Regions from separate parts of the Homo sapiens genome. Here region 2 is linked to region 1. Evidence: fine-mapped expression QTL. Tissue or cell type: whole blood. Region 1 holds a variant in brackets; the other region holds the start of a gene. All regions are shown on one strand. Distances are from middle to middle.

What was found. PIP is the estimated chance that this variant, and not a neighbour inherited with it, causes the effect.
Region 2: SNHG16 starts here. The variant in region 1 is fine-mapped to the expression of SNHG16 in whole blood (INTERVAL, PIP above 0.99).

The regions. Positions count from the first base shown.
Region 1 is chr17:76,582,912-76,592,383 of GRCh38, reverse strand. ST6GALNAC2 (ST6 N-acetylgalactosaminide alpha-2,6-sialyltransferase 2) reads left to right here and starts at 6,524. Exons shown (of 9, transcript NM_006456.3): 1 at 6,524-6,700. The coding sequence starts at 6,576. RefSeq lists enhancers at 4,857-5,537, 5,538-6,219 and silencers at 6,088-6,377, 6,428-6,767. The variant G/T (reference allele first, on the strand shown) is at 5,209.
Region 2 is chr17:76,553,624-76,562,838 of GRCh38, reverse strand. It overlaps SNHG16 (small nucleolar RNA host gene 16), which reads right to left and starts at 5,075. Exons shown (of 3, transcript NR_038111.1): 1 at 4,982-5,075; 2 at 1,441-1,551. SNORD1C (small nucleolar RNA, C/D box 1C) reads right to left here and starts at 4,049; the gene lies at 3,970-4,049. It overlaps SNORD1B (small nucleolar RNA, C/D box 1B), which reads right to left and starts at 1,731; the gene lies at 1,646-1,731. SNORD1A (small nucleolar RNA, C/D box 1A) reads right to left here and starts at 1,206; the gene lies at 1,133-1,206. RefSeq lists enhancers at 3,853-4,654, 4,995-5,254, 4,655-5,455, 5,945-6,044.

The sequences.
Region 1 (9,472 bases):
TTTTAGTAAAAATATGTTTTTACAAAATGCTTACATGTGGTTGTTTTAGAACATAGAGTACTCGAAGTTTTGATCTCTTGGTTTTGCAAATCCGTAATCCATAGTTCATCTTATGTGAAAAGCATGTATATATACTTTTAAAGACTTTGATTGAAGTTAAGGATAACCTTATAGTTTTGAAATATCTAATGAAGCATATTTCAGCTAAAAAGAAAAATTTAGGTTTTTGTTAGGGAAAATTTCGAATATATACAAAAGTAGAGAGAATACTGTAATGCACCCTCATATCCCCATTATACAGCCCCAACAATGAGCCACACTCATAGCCAATTTGTTTCATCTGTGTCCCCATCCACTCTCCACTTCCGGCCCAGACTTGGTTATTTTTAAAGAATTCCATGTATCATATTCGTTTGTAAATATTCAGTATGTATTATTAACAATAAGGACACTTTTAAAAAATAACCACAATGCTACTATCACACATTTTCTTTCTTTCTTTTCTTTTGAGACGGAGTCTCATTCTGTCTCACAGGCTGGAGTGCAGTGGCGTGATCTTGGCTCACTGCAACTTCTGCCTCCTGGGTTCAAGCGATTCTCCCGTCTCAGCCTCCTGAGTAGCTGGGATTACAGGTGCCCGCCACCCACCCCAGACTAAATTTTGTATTTTTAGTAGAGACAGGGTTTTGCCATATTGGCCAGGCTGGTCTCAAACTCCTGACTTCAGGTGATCTGCCCGCCTTGGCCTCCCAAAGTGCTGGGATGACAGGTGTGAACCACTGCACCTGACCTCTTTCTTTTTAAAAATAGAGATGGAGTCTCACTAGGTTGCCCTGGCTGGTCTCAAACTCCTGGGCTCAAGATATCATCTTGCCTCAGCCTCCCAAAGTGCTGGATTACAGTGTGAGCCACCGCACCTAGCCACACATTTTAAAATTTAACAATTCCTTAGATTTATCAAACATCCAGATCAATTTTCCTGATTCAAAAAATAGAATTTTAAGATGACAAATCAATGAGGAAGTCAACATTAAATTAAAAACCATTGCGGCCGGGCGCGGTGGTTCACGCCTGTAATCCCAACACTTTGGGAGGCCGAGGCAAGTGGATCACTTGAAGTCAGGAGTTCGAGACCAGCCTGGCCAACACGGTGAAACCCTATCTCTACTAAAAATACAAAAATTAGCCGGGTGTGGTGGCAGGTGCCTGTAATCCCAGCTACTCTGGAGGCTGAGGCAGGAGAATCGTTTGAGCCCGGGAGGTGGAGGTTGCAGTGAGCTGAGATTGCGCCACTGCACTCCAGCCTGGGCAATACAGTGAGACTGTTTAAAAAAAAAATTGCAAAAGATGAACTGCCAGCATGAGGAACTCTATAGCCCCACTTTCTAGTGAAAGTGGACTCCAGCCTGGTCAACGTGGTGAAACCCTGTCTCTACTAAAAATACAAAAATTAGCCAGGTGTGGTGGCAGGTGCCTAGACACTTCTAAGTAAACAGAAAGTAAGAGGATTTATTGCTAGCAGACACACATTACAAGAAATACTAAAGGAATCTTCAGGCTGAAACAAGATTCAAATACACATGAGACAAAAAAAAAAAAAAACAACTCTGGTAAAGGAAATTCTGTAATTATAAAAAGTATAATTTTATAATTATATATTATATAATTGTATTTACATACAGTCATCCCTTATTATCCATGGGGGATTGGTTCCAGGACTGCCCGTATAACCAAACCAAATCCACACATACTCAAGTCCCATAGTTAGCCCTGAAAAACCCATGAGAAGTAGGCCCTCTGTGTCTGCAAGACCCTGTCTCTGCAAAAATTAAAACAAAAATAAATTAGATGGGTATAGTGGCACATGCCTATAGACCTGGCTACTTGGGAGGCTAAGGCAGGAGGATCGCTTGAGCCCAGGAGTTTAAGACTGCAGGAGCCAGCTGGGCACGGTGGCTCACGCCTGTAATCCCAGCACTTTGGGAGGCTGAGGCGGGCAAATCATGAGGTCAGGAGATCAAGACCATCCTGGCTAACATGGTGAAATCCCATCTCTACTAAAAATACAAAAACTTAGCTGGGCATGGTAGCACACGCCTGTGGTCCTAGCTACTTGGGAGGCTGAGGCAGGAGAATCAAGGCAGCTTGAACTCAGGAGGTGGAGGTTGCAGTGAGCCAAGATCATGCCACTGCACTCCAGCTTGGACAACAGAGTGAGACTCCGTCTCAAAAAAAAAGAAAAAGACTGCAGGAGCCATGATTTCACCACTGTACTACAGTCTGAACAACAAGAGTGAGACTCTGACTCAAAAAAAAAAAAAAAAAAAAAACAGTAAGAAAGAAAAAAAAACAGTAAGAAAGAAAGAAAAAAGTAACGCAGGTCTCCAGGGATGCCTTTATACACAGCTGAACAGGTTTGCAGCTGATAGAGATCTGGGCCTCAGATGGAGACTAATTCAGGAGTCACAAACAGAAAGCTGGTTGTTGAAACCATGAGAACAAAGAGTTGCAGGCTGGAATTACTGGGAGCTAAGTGTCAAATTCAGAGAGACAGATGCAGCAGAATTAGAACTGGAAAATGTGGACTCCCTTTGGAAGGATGATGGTTGCTAGTGACTTCAGTGGGTACAATTTCAATGGCATCGTAGGTAAGGAAGTCAGATGCAAAAAGAAGCAGAGACAGAATAGACTCTCTACCAAGAACTTGGATGAAAGAAAAAGAGAGTAGCTATGAAGGGGGCCAGCTCCATGGCGTTTTTTGTTTGTTTTGCTTTGCTTTGCTTTTTAGGATGAGCTATTTGGGGCATGTTCATAGGCTGTGATAAGGACCTTGCAGAGGGGGCAGGGAGGGCTGCTGAAGCAAGAGCTGAAGAATGGGAGGTCACAGTGAAGAGGCTGGCTCTCCCTGGAAGGAGGAGAGTCTGGAGCAATAAGGTGAGGGTGCATGGGCAGGATCATGCTGTGAGCAGAGGGACCAACTGACCTTTTGTTCCAGGCTCTTTTCAAGAACGTTGGTATAGGCCAGGTGCAGTGGCTCACGCCTGTAATCCCAGCACTTTGGGAGGCCGAGGCGGGCGGATCACGAGGTCAGGAGATCGAGTTCATCCTGGGTAACATGGTGAAACCCCATCTCTACTAAAAATACAAAAAATTAGCCAGATGTGGTGGCGGGCGCCTGTAGTCCCAGCTACTTGGGAGGCTGAGGCAGGAGAATGGCGTGAACCCGGGAGGTGGAGCTTGCAGTGAGCCGAGATCGTGCCACTGCACCCCAGCCTGGCGACAGAGCGAGACTCTGTCTAAAAAAGAAAAAAAAAAAAAAAGATTGTTGGTACAGCAGACTGCCTTGGAAGATAAAGATAGTGCCTCCCTCTGGAGCAGAGGGCAGATTTCCTCACTATCCAACGTAATAAAGATAATGTCTCCCTCTTGGACAAGAGCAGGTTTGCTTGCAGCCCATTATAAAAGATTCTGGTTTCCTTATCTCAGGGATTCTCAGCTGTGCTGCAAACCCATTGTGTGTGCAACACTCACCTGGGCCTCTCTGTATCACTCTCATGGGGCTTGAGGAGTAAAGAGAAGTGACACAAACATGATGCCTATGTTGCTTGCTGCACCATGAGTAATAAAGTCCTTTGTCTCTGATCCAGTAGTCTTGTGTCTTCTACCAGCATCCACAGAACTATGGCAGTTTCATTGGTTAGCTTGTAAGGAGAGCAAAATCTGCACAGTTCTTAACAAAAGATGACTTTGAACTTGGGGGCATGGGAAGTTGAAGGTCACTCCTGATGGGCTGCATTTTCTCACAGGTATGGCTGGGAAAAGAGGAGGCTTGAGGAAAGAAGTAAGTTCTAGAATCATTGTTGAGCAGGATAGAAGCTGGAGCTGAGCAAGGATAAGGAAATGGCTGATGTTGAGAGCCAGCTGAGGCCAAACTTGTGTTCCCAATTCACACTCTGGAATGAGCTACACCTGACCCCTGACCCCTGCAGCACTCAGCCAGGCCAGGGACAGGCAGCACAGGAGAGGCAGAGGCAAGAGTGAATCCAGGTCAGAGTTTTGCTGGGAAGAAAGCCAGGAACACAAGAGAATCTGGGTTACTGATGCAGGAGTAGCTCAGATTATAACCCAGGGAGTCCTGCCTAGATAGGAAAGAAAGCTGCTGAGAGAGGGTTGGCCCACTGGGAGAAAAGGGAAGGATGGAGACCCTGGAGGTCCTGTGAGGCTGAAGATGGGAGGAAGGAGAACTCCAGGTGGGTGGATAGGAGATCTTGGTGTGAGGGGAGTACTGCCATTTAAGGCATTGGAGGTGGACCTGGATTATTAACACAGATAGGGGGTTAACTCCCACACAGGAGGAGAGCACCCTCTCCCCAGCTCTTAAGACTGGAGTCCTGAGGCCTGGCGCAGTGGCTCGCACATGTAATCCCAGCAGTTTGGGAGGCCAAGGTGGGCAGATCACCTGAGGTCAGGAGTTTGAGACCAGCCTGGCCAACGTGGTAAAGCCCCCATCCCTACTAAAAATACAAAAAAAAAAAGCTGGGCATGGGGGTGCACTCCTGTAATCCCAGCTACTGGGGAGGCTGAGGCAGGAGAATCGCTTGAACCTGGGAGGTGGAAGTTGCAGTGAGCCGAGATCACGCCTCTGCACTCCAGCCTGGGTAACAGGCTGTTTCAAAAAAAAAAAAAAAAAAAAAGACTAGAGTCCCGGCAGGGAGAGGCTGGGCTGTGTGTGGGGGCCAAGTTTGTAGGTTTGTAAGTGGAAGTTGAATAAATTACTAATGAATGATTCTCCTTTTCTCCATGAAGTAGAGGGTAAGGCACTTACTGAGAGCAAGGGCTAGGAGGGATATTTATGGGCACAGAGAGAAGGTCTGAGGAAATGTGAGAAGCCAGTGATCAGGGGATAAGTAACATCTACAGGAATTTTGACAAGTAAACCCATAAAGATTGAAATGAAAGTCGTGACACCATAAATTCCAAGTAGTGCCCATCTGCGGGGTAGCAAGATGAGTCTGGCTCTGCTGAGCAGTCTTGGGGTGAAGGAAAGAACTGGCCCAATGTGAGTGACCTCCAGTGACCCTGACTTGGTAGGAGTACTGAGACTGGATGGACTGAATGGCCATTCCTGACCACAGGCCCAGGCCCTGGGAGGTTTTCGGGAAGCCTTGCAATCAGACAGGTACCTGTTGCTGCACCCAGACTTCCTCG[G/T]ATACATGAAGAACAGATTAGAGCCAAAGGCCCGTGACACGGTAGCCTAGGTCCCTCTCATCCTTGCAGCCTGCTGACAGTTGGGAGTCTGGGGCATGTCACAGCCTGCCGCATGTCACAGCTTGCCGAACAGTGGCCACTGAAGCACACCCATCTCATCCATCACTCACTGCCAGGGAGTGTTCCACTTAGAGAGCACGGGTGCTGAGCTTCCCAGCCCTTTCTGATGCTGGAGCCTGCTAGACCAGGGGTCCCCAATCCCAAGCCTGGTCCGAGACCTGTTAGGAACAGGGCATCGCAGCAGGAGGTGAGTGGAGGGGGAAGGAGCATTACCGCCTGAGCTCCGCCTCCTTCAGATCAGCCTCGGCATTAGAGTCTCAAAGGAGTGCGAACCCTTTTGTGAAATGCGCATGCCAGGGATCTAGGTTGCGGGCTCCTTATGAGAGCATCTTAACTCATGCCTGATGATCTGAGGTGGAACAGTTTCATCCCCAACCCCCCCACCCCCACCCCCCTCCGTGGAAAAATTGTCTTCCAGGAAACCAGTCCCTGGTGCCAATAAGTTTGGGAACCCGTTGTGCTGAACATTTCAGGTGGTCTCTCTGACTGGCCTCGTTCTGTGAAAGGAACTCAATGCGATTGAGGGGACTGGCCACCCTGGATGGTTACCAAATAAGCGCTGACAGCCTTAGCTCCCCCACGAAACCCATCACGGCAAGCTCCCCACCTCACCCCCTTTTCCCCCCTCTACCGCCAGCCCAGAGACTGAGCTGTCGGGTTTTGCTCCTCCACCCTGCCCGCCCCCTCCCAGCTGTCCTGGCGTCCGCAGACTGACAGATCTGAGGGTCCTTTGGAGGGAGCCGGGCACATCTCCTCCCGGCCGCCGCCCACCCGCCACAGAGTCTAGAGGCCGAGTGCCGGGCCCGCAGAGGGCAGAGCGCAGCCAGCGCAGCAGGTGGCGGCGTCTACCCGCGCCTAGCTAGCCCCGGACGGCGCGAGGAAAGCGCCCTGCCCAACCCGAGACTGGCGGCCTCCCGGGGCTGGGCTCTGGAGAGAGCGCAGTGGCAGGAGTGGCCGCTGCCGAAGTCCCCCGGGCAGGGGGCAGGGCCAAAGGAGCGCGCGCTCTGGGCGCCGGGACGACACTCCAGCCCCGGGGGACCCGCCGCCCAGCTCCCGAGGGTGCGGCAGCCTCTGGCCACTCAGCCGGGGCCGAGAGGGAGCTGCCGGGCGGGCAGGCGCCGCAGGCACCCGGCGGGCAGGGCGGGGCAGGGCAAGACGGCCGCCTCCGCAAGTGCCACCCGGCCCACCCGGTTCTCTCCCTTCTGCCTGGGACGTCAGCGGACGGGGCGCTCGCGGGCCGGGGCTGTATGGGGCTCCCGCGCGGGTCGTTCTTCTGGCTGCTGCTCCTGCTCACGGCTGCCTGCTCGGGGCTCCTCTTTGCCCTGTACTTCTCGGCGGTGCAGCGGTACCCGGGGCCAGCGGCCGGAGCCAGGTAGGGGCTGCCGAGCGCAGAGCGGGAGGGCGCAGGGGCGACCAGGGCGCGGGGAGGGTCCCCAGCCCAGGGCTCCCCGGCGGCCCGCAGCCCTCAGCCCAACCTCCGCGTGGACCCCTCTGGGGCAGCTCTCAGCGAGGACTCGGCCGCGGCCCTTTGTCGCCAGAACCCTCTCCCAGCCTTGACCTCGCGCTGCCCGGACCCCGCGGCCTTTGCCTGGGTCCAAGGAAGACCTCGCCCCTGTGCACTGGCGACCCGCCCCGGTGCCCCTTGTTGGTGAAGTCCTCCCCGGCCTGATAAGTACACTTTCTATTGTCGAAATCTGGCTGGGTCCCCGAAGCAGATAAAAACTTCCTTTTTTGTCGGGAACTCTCCCTCGGTAACGTCAGATTCTGCTTTTTGGGCAGGGGCCCAAGTCTCCGGTTTCCAACTTCGCGGGGACCCTCCGTCGGGCCGCGGCCAGTCGCCTTTCCCGCCCGCTGCGGTCTCTGTCCGCCCCGCGCCCGCTCCCTTCTCCCCGGCTTCCGCTCGCCGTGTCTGGATAAGCCCAGTGCGGGCGCGATCCGCGAAGAGGCGGGCGCCCGAGGGAAAGAGGGGTGACTCCTGGCTCCATCCGCGTTCTCCTCCCCGCGCCGCGTCCTGCGCTCCACTCCCTCCTCCTCCCTAGGCACTTTCCTGGGTGTCCCACGAGGAGAACCTGGGAGCCGGCCTCTAGCAGGTGGTGGTTCCGGTGACTGAAGAAGCCGCAAAACGATTTCGCTTAGCTTAAGAAAGGCGGACCAAGCCGTGCGAAGTCTGGGTTTGGGAGGAGGGAAGGGCCCGGCAGCCTCAGGGAGAGGCCTCCAGCCCCAGCCTTTCCCTTCCTGGAGCTTTTCCATCTGCGCACCCCCTACCAACCTTGCTGGGGGGCTAACGGGATGAAAACAAAATAAGTATCTGGTCTCCACAGATGCTGTCAAAGGATACACCAAAAGTTGCAGAACAATGTGAAACAGCTTGCCAGTGATCAGGAGTCCAGCACTCTTAGAACAAAGGGTGCTTGCCCCGCCACGGTGACTTAACGCCTGTAGTCCCAGCACTCTGGGAGGCGGAGGTGGGAGGATAGCTTGAGGCCAGGAATTCGAGGCTGTGAGCTGTGATTGCACTACTGCATTCCAGCCTGGTTGACAGAGAGAGACCCTGTCTCAAAAGAAAAGGAATCCTTGTCACTTTTATGTAAAGATGTTTAAAACACAAAGTATCTCAATGCAAAGAAATAATACATGTTTGATATAAGCCTGGGCAACATGGCGAAACCTCGTCTCTACCAAAAATACAAAACTTATCCGGGGATGGTGGTGCATGCCTGTGCTTCCATCTATCTATTCCGGGAGCTGACCAAGAAGATCCCTTGAGTCTGGGAGGTCGAGGCTGCAGTGAGCTGTGATCGCGCCACTGCACTCCAGCCTGGGCAATACAGCAAGGTCCTGTCTCCAGAAAAAAAAAAAAAAGTTCGAGGTGATGGATATGCTAATTAGCTGGTTTGATTATTACACATTACATACACGTATTGAAATATCACACTGTGGCCGGGCGCGGTGGCTCACGCCTGTAGTCTCAGCATTTTGGGAGGCCGAGGCAGGCGGATCACGAGGTCAGGAGATCCTCCTGACCTGGCTTTCACCTGGCTAACACGGTGAAACCCCGTCTCTACTAAAAAATACAAAAAATTAGCTGGGCGTGGTGGCGGGCACCTGTAGTCCCAGCTACTCGGGAGGCTGAGGCAGGAGAATGGCGTGAACCTGGGAGGTGGAGCTTGCAGTGAGCCAAGATCGCGCCACTGCACTCCAGCCTGGTGACAGAGCGAGACTCCATCTCAAAAAAAAAAAAAAGAAATATCACACTGTACCCTATACATATGTGCAAGTATGTGCCAATTAAAAATAATTTTACAAAAAGGAAGAGACCTGATCTAGCAACTCAGCCCCACTCTGCATGTGACGTCCTGCCCCACCAACACCAAGGCCCTCTGGCTGCCCTGGACCACTGCCTATGGGGTAGCCCTGCTCCACAAGGAGCAGAAAAGAAAAAAAAAAAAAAAAGGCCTTCACCAAATGTGGTTCCTCGACCTTGGACTTCCCAGCCTCCATAACTGTAAGAAATGAATTCCTTTTCTTATAAAAATAATCTTTTGGGGACAGTCTCACTCTGTCACCCAGGCTTGCAGTACAGTGGGTCTATCTTGGCTCACTGTAACCTCCACCTCCTGAGCTAAAATGATTCTCCCACCTCAGCCTCCCAAGTAATACATTATCTTCTTTTTTTTTTTGGGACAGAGTCTCCCTCTGTCGCCCAGGCTGGAGTGCAGTGGCCCCATCTCGGCTCACTGCAAGCTCTGTCTCCCGGGTTCATGCCATTCTCCTACCTCAGCCTCCCGAGTAGCTGGGTCTACAGGTGCCCGCCACCATGCCCAGCTGATTTTTTGTATGTTTTAGTACAGACAGGTTTTCACCGTGTTAGCCAGGATGGTCTCGATCTCCTGACCTCGTGATCCGTCCACCTGGGCCTCCCAAAGTGCTGGGATTATAGGCGTGAGCCACCGCGCCCAGCCCCGAGTAATACATTTTTTAAAAAACACAAATTAAAATTGTTTCAGGGTATCTAATAGACTTTAAGTATGAAGTTTACTATACTTCTATTATAATGCAACAATGCTTTTTTAAAAAAAAGATCTTTCCTCTTTTCAAAATGTAGTATGACTCAAGCACCTGGCCCTTTCCTGCTGTTTCTCTG
Region 2 (9,215 bases), 29 kb after region 1:
GGATAGAAACATTTCAAGTCAAATCTTATGGTTTACTTGAGTTCTGTAGTCAAGTCCACTCAGCAGACAATAACCACTTGATAAGCTACCCTTTTCACTGTTTTACTTGCAGGCTGTAAACTACTGGGGCCAGTTTTTAGGCTCATTAAATCTCACCCAGAATACAGCTTCTTTGGTGTCCAGCAAAAACACAACCTTAAATACAAAGAGTTTGCACACACCTCCCCTTTCTTTTTTTTTTTTTTTTTTTTGAGACGGAGTCTCGCTCTGTCACCCAGGCAGGACTGCGGACTGCAGTGGCGCAATCTCGGCTCACTGCAAGCTCCGCTTCCCGGGTTCACGCCATTCTCCTGCCTCAGCCTCCCGAGTAGCTGGGACTACAGGCGCCCGCCACCGCGCCCGGCTAATTTTTTTGTATTTTTAGTAGAGACGGGGTTTCACCTTGTTAGCCAGGATGGTCTCGATCTCCTGACCTCATGATCCACCCGCCTCGGCCTCCCAAAGTGCTGGGATTACAGGCGTGAGCCACCGCGCCCGGCCCACACCTCCCCTTTCAACAGAAAAGAAAGGCAATCTGTGTGCACTTCAAGCCTGGCATTCCAGTGGGAACAAAGCTGGGCACCCCACTCTCCAGCACCACTTGGTTTCTTTCTTGCTCACATGCCAGTCGTGACATTCAGACAGGATCTAAGCTACAAACTTAGGAGACCTCCCTGGCGTCCTTAACAAAGCACATAGAAACCAAACAGCCGTGGTTTCCCCTAAATGTCAGGACCCTGGAGCAGAGGCAAGGTCAGAGTCATTAAGCATTCTCATTGCCACAAGCTGGCATACATCCTACATTCCAATCTGTTTCTAAGAGCGCATTCATTTTCTTGAAATATGTAACAAGCACTTTCATTCCACAATAAGGGCATAAATCAAATCCTGGGTACTTGTGCATTCCTGCCACCTCATACAGCCTGTATCCTCAGAGCCATAATCAAAGGACTAGAGAAAGCAGGACAATCACTCATTTGCTTTTCACGTTTTAGAGGAATGATGCTCTAGACTGGGCTCTCAGCAGGATATGCTGAGGGAAAAAAAAAGGGGAAAAAAAACAAAAACAAAAAAAAAACCATGGAGCCAAACCCTTAAGCCTCAGAATAGATTATTTCCCTCAGTCCAGATTTTCAGACAGGGATAACTAACCATCATAGGCTTGTGGGACTTCTTACGGATACGAAAGATGTAAACAAATCTTACAAACAGGAAAGCAATCATTTCACTTGTTTCCGGCAAAGCAGTTCAGTTTCGTCTCTTATTGCAGACACCTAGCAACAAAATGCTACTAAAGTCTCCCTGCCCCCATTGCTTTAAGTCCAGAGCAGGGGAAGCAAAAAAGATTACCACTCCCCCAAACCAAACCAAGCCTGTTTACCAGTTCGTCTACTTACTCACATTAAAGACATGGCACTTTGGGTCCGGGTCCAGGTCCTGGTTCAGAGCAGCTGCCACACCGTGGCTACTAGAGGATCCTTTTCCGGCTTTGGAAACTGAGGCTGACTGCACCTGGGAAGAGAAATTAAGAAAAAAAACTACTTAAGAAGATACACACAGAGTAACTCTCAAGTAACTTAAAATTTCTGTAAGGCAAACTTGGGAAACTGAGTTTCAGATATTCAAATTCCACACAGAAAGGCCTTTCTTTGCCTTCAGACAGGGATAACTTGAAATCATCATGGACTCAGCTCCCACCAACCTGCTGGACCATAGCACTAACAGCCACAGCACACGCAAACTATTTTTTTCTCATCAAATTGTTCACTTCCCTCACGCAAATTCTTTGTGGAGCAAGCATGTGACTTTCTTTTTTTGAAAAGTAGTTTCACTCTTGTTGCCCAGGCTGGAGTGCAATGACGCGATCTCGGCTCACTGCAACCTCCACCTCCCGGGTTCAAGTGATTCTCCTGCCTCAGACTCCCAAGTAAGTTGGGATTACAAGCATGCGCCACCACGCCAGGCTAATTTTGTATTTTTAGTAGAGACGGAGTTTCTCCATGTTGGTCAGGCTGGTCTCGAACTCCCGACCTCAGATGATCCACCTGCCTCGGCCTCCCCAAGTGCTGGGATTACAGGTGTCAGCCACCGTGCCCTCCAGGCTTTCAGTTTTTTAAGACAGAGGATTAGAGATTTGCCCAAGAGCTACTTAAAAATAGCCAGCACTATAATCTCACTATAATAAAATCCTTGCACTAAAAACAGATCAGATCATCTACTTCAAGCTTGTCTAACCCACAGCCTGCATGTGGCTCAGGACGGCTTTGAATGCAGCCCAACACAAATTTGTAAACTTTAGGACGGCTTTGAATGCAGCCCAACAAATTTGTAAACTTTCTCAAAATATTATGAGATTTTTTTTTTTTAGCTCATCAGCTATCATTAGTGTTAGTTTATTTTATGTGTGACCCAAGACAATTCTTCCAATGTGGCACAGGGAAGCCAAAAGATTGACACCCCTGATCTAGTTACTACCCACTTGCTCTTGGACTGGCCACATGATTCCTGGACTCCACTCCAGAGCCATTCTCACCCATGCCTGGAGGTGAGGCCCAGGAATGTGTATATTTTAACACTTTGTAGGTGGCTCTGATGTAATAATCAAGTTTGGAAATCACTAACCCTGTTTCACAAATGAAGAAACAAGACTCTGGTGAGAAAATAGGCTGAGACTAGAGCTCAGATCTCTAGTTAGCCTAACGTGTGGTATACAGGAGTTTCTCAACCTCAGCTCTACTGACATACTGGGTGGATCAATTATTCCTCATGCAGGCTGTTGTATGCATTGTAGGATATTTATTTATTTATTTATTTACAGAGTTTCGCTCTTGTCGCCTAGACTGGAGTACAATGGTGCCATCTCAGCTCACTGCAAACCTCTGCCTCCTGGGTTCAAGAGATTCTCCTGCCTTAGTCTCCCAAGTAGCTAGGATTACAGGTGCCCGCCACCACACCCAGCTAATTTTTGTATTTTTAGTAGAGACAAGGTTTCACCATGTTGGCCAGGCTGGTCTCGAACTCGAACTCCTGACCTCAGGTGATCCATCTGCTTCGGCCTCCCAAAGTGCTGGGATTACAGGCATGAGATAAATATCCAGGCCCAGCCAGGGTATTTATTAATAGTAGCATTCACCAGATGCCAGGAACACCATCGCTCCCCAGTTCAGAACTGCCAGTCTAACTCAGTAACTGCTTGTATAACTTTGGGCAAAAGAACTCTTTACGCCTCACTTTTACTTACTCAGCAGCAGAGTGGGGAAAAAAATTTACCTCATATGGGGTTGATATTAGAAATACTATTTATGGCCAGGCAAGGTGGCTCACGCCTGTAATCCCAGCACAGATCACCTTAAGTCGGGAGTTCAAGACCAGCCTGACCAACATGGAGAAACCCCGTCTCTACTAAAAACACAAAATTAGCTAGGCGTGGTGGTGCATGCCTGTAATCCCAGCTACTTGGGAGGCTGAGGCAGGAGACTAGCTTGAACCCAGGAGGCAGAGGTTGCGCTGAGCCAAGATCGCACCATCGCACTCCAGCCTGGGCAACAAGAGCAAAACTCTGTCTCAAAACAAACAAACAAAAAATGCTCTTTATGAGAGTGCTTGGCAAGGACCCTATCAAAAGGAATTCCATACTACTTCCATTATCTGGGCAATCGTAACCCTGGAAGACCAACACATCCCCAAAACTAACAAACCAATACTTAAAGAGGACCATAAGCATATTCAAGTCTATGAAAGTACTAAAAATCTCACCATTTACAGAAATTTCATCATGAAGATCCTTACACTTAACACCTTAAGGTGATGAGTTTTCACATGACTGTTTTCAAGGCCACAGCCACCACCTTTAATCTAAAAGAGAAGGATAACAGGCTTCATTCTAACAGAAACCACCTTAAGGTTTATTCTCCAGATTTGTATTAAACAGCTGAGCCTCAGCAAGTCAGACCTCCTCACAAAAGATACCATTTCAGACAGGGATAACTTTAAATCATCCTCAGCTCAGCCAATAACAAAGATTCCTAAATCCTAGCGATCCAAAATTCATTTGCCATGTCTCTTTCATCCCTGCATGCCCTAACGAGGATCCACGCTGGTTACAATGACACCTAGTGGCCCCAAATCACACGGGCAAAGACGCTACTCATTTTTATCATTAAAATAATTAGCATTCTGAATTTTGAGTAATTTCTTACCATAGCTGGCTTGTATGTCAACACGTATTCTCATACTTGAACTTCAGAATAAAGCAGGAGGTGAATGTATGTGATGGCACCAACTGTGCTTTCTCATTTCTAGTGACCACTCAGGCCCTGCCTGCACCCACTCTTACTCATGTTAAGGGCTCCATCTATTACTCTGATCCTTCAACCTGGAGCTCTGCTTTTCACCGTCTCTGCAGATGCCAAACAAAGAAAGGCCTCTGGGGGAGGAAAAAAGGCTCGTTGTTAAAACTACGGCTTTCCAGAAGTTTACAATCCTATTGACTCCTATCTGTAAAGCTAAATATGAACTACCGATTGGGGCCGTCCTCAAGACACTCCAAGCGGAATCACGTCTTCACACGTTAACACTCCTGATGCTGAATTAAGAACCACCATCGTCAGAGTCTGCCCGTGCGCGGGCACCGAAGACCCCTGGGCATGACGCTCAGCACACGCGCGGCGGAGGCGCACGGGGCTGCCCAGGTTGTTAGGCGCTCTCCCCCGCAGAAGCCGGCCCTATGACGCCGAGGACGGGCTTGAGCTCTCTCCCTTCACATAGTAACATTTTCTCAACGTTTGGAAAGCATTTTCTCATCCAGTACTTTTAACCCTCCTAACCACCCTATGAGGGAGAAACCGAGATTATCGTCACCACTTCGTCTCTGAGGAAGGGAAGCCAAGTATGTTAGTGTCGTGTCAAGGAAGACCCCGTTTTCCCACCCAGGCAGCCTTACCATCATCACTAAAGGCCTGAGACTGCTCGCCGTGCTCAACACCGACTGGAGTGGCCATGTCTTCCAGCCACGCGGCCGACCTCGAAAAGAACGCGAGACCGCCCCTGCGCGCAAGTCTTCTCGGCAATCTCTCCGGAACTCTCGCGATGTTGAGAAAGGGCTGGTGGGAAATGTAGTTCAAAACTACGGCGGCTGGGGGCTGGCCGCGTCCTCAGCGCGACCCTGGAGCTGGGGGTAAGATGGTGGCCGCCACCAGGGGCAGTGGAGGGTCCGGAGTGGGAAACCAGGCCTGTGAAGAACCACGGCTGTCAGAAAACGAAGCTGGAGGTTCACTTCTGCCAGAAAGTCATTGAGCTTCAACACAGTTTGTCCCTGGTCGAGACTGGGGAAGCACAGAAAGTTCGAGGGGGCAGGGACAGATGAGGAAACCGGGGCTTGGCCGAGTATCTTTGTTAATTGCTCTGCGGATTTTATTTGGGGGAGGATAGGGGCATTTGGGGTGGTTCGCTGGGTTAGTGAAGAGGAGAGATTCCGAGGGAATCGTTCAACCTCCTGCTCAGGTGTTTTTAAGTTTGGGGCGAGGCCGGTGAAGCCGAGGCGCGGGCGGCAAGGAGCGCTGGAGAGCGACGGGGCTCGGCCTCCGCGGCTGCCCAGGGGCCCGGGGCATTCCGAGAAGAGAAAAAAAGGCAAGTGTCACGAGCTGAATTACGAAAAGAACGGAGAATGATGTAACACCCACTGCTCTTCTGAGTGTTATTTTTCAGGCAAACACCTTGGCTTCATTTTTTTTTGTTTCTGGGTTTTTTTGGTTTGTTTTTGAGATAAGGTTTCACCCTGGCACGCAGGCTGGAGTGCAGTGGTGCAATCATAACTTATTGTAGCCTGGACCTCCCGGGCTCAAGTGATCCTCCCGCCTCAGCCTCCTGAGTGGCCGGGACGACAGGCGAGCGCCACCACGCCCAGCTGATTATTTTTATTTTGCAGAGATGAGGTCTCACTATGTTGCCCGGGTTGGTCTCAAACTCCTGGCCTCAAGCAGTCCTCCTGTTTTGGCCTCCCAAAGTGCTGGGATTACAAAGGTGAGCCACTGCGCCCGGTCTGGCTTCGTTTTTGAAATAAAAATAAGGCAAAAACGACATCAACAATCAGGGCCAGAATTTGCACCTATTTGAAAGCTAGTTTAAGTTTGCAAGACCGAGAGCCTTTTCTCCATTCCAGTCTCCCTGTTCTCATCCACCCATTAACAGTGATCTCTGTGGCCTTCGGTGTGGGTTATATTGTCCTGCAGATGGTAATATGTTGCAGATACTTATCTTCAAATTACCACATTTGCTTATGTTTACCTCCTTTCATTTGATTGTAAGCTCTTCAAGAGCAGAAGTCTCTTTTTATTATTATTATTATTTTTTTTTTTTTTTTTTTTTGAGATGGACTTTTGCTCTTGTTGCCCAGGCTGGAATGCAATGGCACGATCTCGGCTCACGGCAACCTCCGCCTCCCAAGCTCAAGTGATTCTCCTGCCTCAGCCTCCTGAGTAGCTGGGATTACAGGCATGCGCCACCACGCCCAGCTAATTTTGTATTTTTAGTAGAGATGGGGTTTCTCCATGTTAGGCTGTTCTCAAACTCCTGACCTCAGGTGATCCACCCGTCTCAGCCTCCCAAAGTGCTGGGATTACAGGCGTGAGCCACCACGCCCAGCCTCTTTTTATTTTTATTTTTTTCTTTTTAATTTCTTAACAGTGCAGGGTTTGGTATTTACCTGCTATGCTCACAGTAAGTCTTCAGCAAATAATCATTAATTCATTCAGCAGTAATTCTGGCCATTAGGTTTCTCTACCTTACCCTTGAAGACACGTTATTTTGTGTAATACTGAAAGGAAGAATGTGTTCTATCCCTGCAAACATAGTTCCTTTCATTTGAGACTTACAGTGGGAATTCTAAGTGTGGAATTTCCCAAAAGCTGCTAGCGGGCTGGTGACCTACTGTAGACAAGATAGTAATGATAGCTAATACTTCATAGCACTTACCAGGTGCCATTCCCTATACTGGTTTCTGTACATGTATGAACTCGTTTAATCCTCACAATGCGATGAAGTACTACTGTCAGAGGCATTGGAACCAGAAAACTCCATCTTGAATAGGAGCTGGGTGAAACGAGGCTGAAACCTACTGGGCTGCATTCCCGGACGGTTAAGGCATTCTAAGTCACAGGATGAGACAGGAGGTCGGCACAAGATACAGGCCATAAAGACCTTGCTGATAAAACAGTTTGCAGTAAATAAGCCCACCAAAACCAAAACCAAGATGGCGATGAGAGTGACCTCTGGTCGTCCTCACTGCTACACTCCCACCAGCGCCATGACAGTTTACAAATGCCATGGCAACATCAGGAAGTTACCCTATGTGGTCTAAAAATGGGAGGCGTAAATAATCCACCCCTTGTTTAGGATATAATCAAGAAATAACCATAAAAATGGGCAACCAGCAGCCCTCAGGGCTGCTCTGTGGAGTAGCCTTTTTTTTTTTTTTTTTTTTGAGACAGAGTCTCGCTCTGTCACCCAGGCTGCAGTGGTGCTGCTGTCTCGGCTCACTGCAGCCTCCACCTCCTGGGTTCAAGCAATTCTCCTGCTTCAGCCTCCCGAGTAGCTGGATTACAGGCGCACGCCACCACGCCCGGCTAATTTTTGTATTTTTAGTAGCAACAGGGTTTCACCATGTTGGCCAGGCTGGTCTCGAACTCCTGACCTCAAGTGATCTGCCTGCCTCAGCCTCCCAAAGTGCTAGGATTATAGGCTTGAGCCACCATGCCTGGCCAAGTAGCCATTCTTTTATTCCTTTACTTTTCTAATAAACTTGCTTTCACTTTAGTCTATAGACATCCCAAATTCCTTCTTGCTCAAGATCCAAGAACCCTCTTTTGGGGTCTGGATCAGGACTCCTCTCCGGTAACACTATCACTGTCCCCATTTTACGGATAAGGAAACAGAAGCACTGGGAAATTCGGTAACTTGCCCAAATTCACATAACCAGTAACTGGCAGGGTCAGGGTTTGCTCCCAGCCTGTAGAATCCATGCTTTTACCGCTAATGAATAAGGTGACCTTATGTATAAGGACTTTTGTTTTCGGGGAGGAAGGGAGAAGGAAGAAGATTTTCATGTGTTTGTAGGGGTGGTTGGGGACAAAATCAGAAATGAGGTTGAAAGGGGGAACAATGGGCACCTGCTCTGCCATTTGAGCCACTTCGTGGCAGGAAGAGTGAGGATGGGAGGCTGCAGAGCTGATGTGTGGAAGATGGAGGCTCTGGGCTCTAGCAGGGCTGTATTGGGCCTGGATGCCACCCAGTGTATAGTGAGGGCCATTCTTTACAGCTCTTCACTCTGCCGCAGGCCACCAAGTTGCTTTCACACCTGACTGGACATCGCTTCCCCAACAGCAGGTTCATGGCAGATGGGGATGCCAGGGCAGCTGGGCAGTGGCCAAGAGGCTGGAGCGAAATACAATGAGAGGCCTTGTGCCGAGCACATGTAAAGTACACTGTGCAGCCAACCCAGAAATAACTAGGGGGACTTCAGAGAATGCATCAGAATTCCTGAATGAGCCGGCAAGGGCTCAGAGCTGTTGAGACTGAAATGTGGATGTTACTGTGATCTCATTTGCACTCATTGCTGGTGAGAGCTAGGACATTTGAGTTTTACCTACCGTGGAATTATTATACAGCCTTTATACCAGGCTAGTGCAGACCTCTATTTATTGACATGGAAAGAGTCACAGTCTAGTGACTCTTTACAAACAGGAAAGCAAAAGTCCCCAGCGCTTTTCAGGGACCCAGGCTCTGAGTACAAAGGGAAAATCCAGTCAGCTGGCCTGCTGTATTGGGGTGGTCACTGACAGCGTTTAAGACATGGTATCTGAAACCCACAGTAATAGAAAACAGTCTTTGGGCTGGTCGCAGTGGCTCATGCCTATAATCCCAACACTTTGGTTGGCCAAGGCAGGAGGATCACTTGAGCCCAGGAGTTCAAGACCAGCCTGAGCAACATAGGGAGACCCCCGTCTCTACCAATAAAAAATGAGAAACAGCCAGGTGTGGTGGCACATGCCTGTGGTCCCAGCTGGATGGGAGGCTGAGGTGGGAGGATTGCTGGGGCCCGTGAGATTGAGGCTGTGCAGTGAGCCATGACTTCATCACTGCCCTCCAGCCTGGATGACAGAGCAAGACCTTGTCTCAAA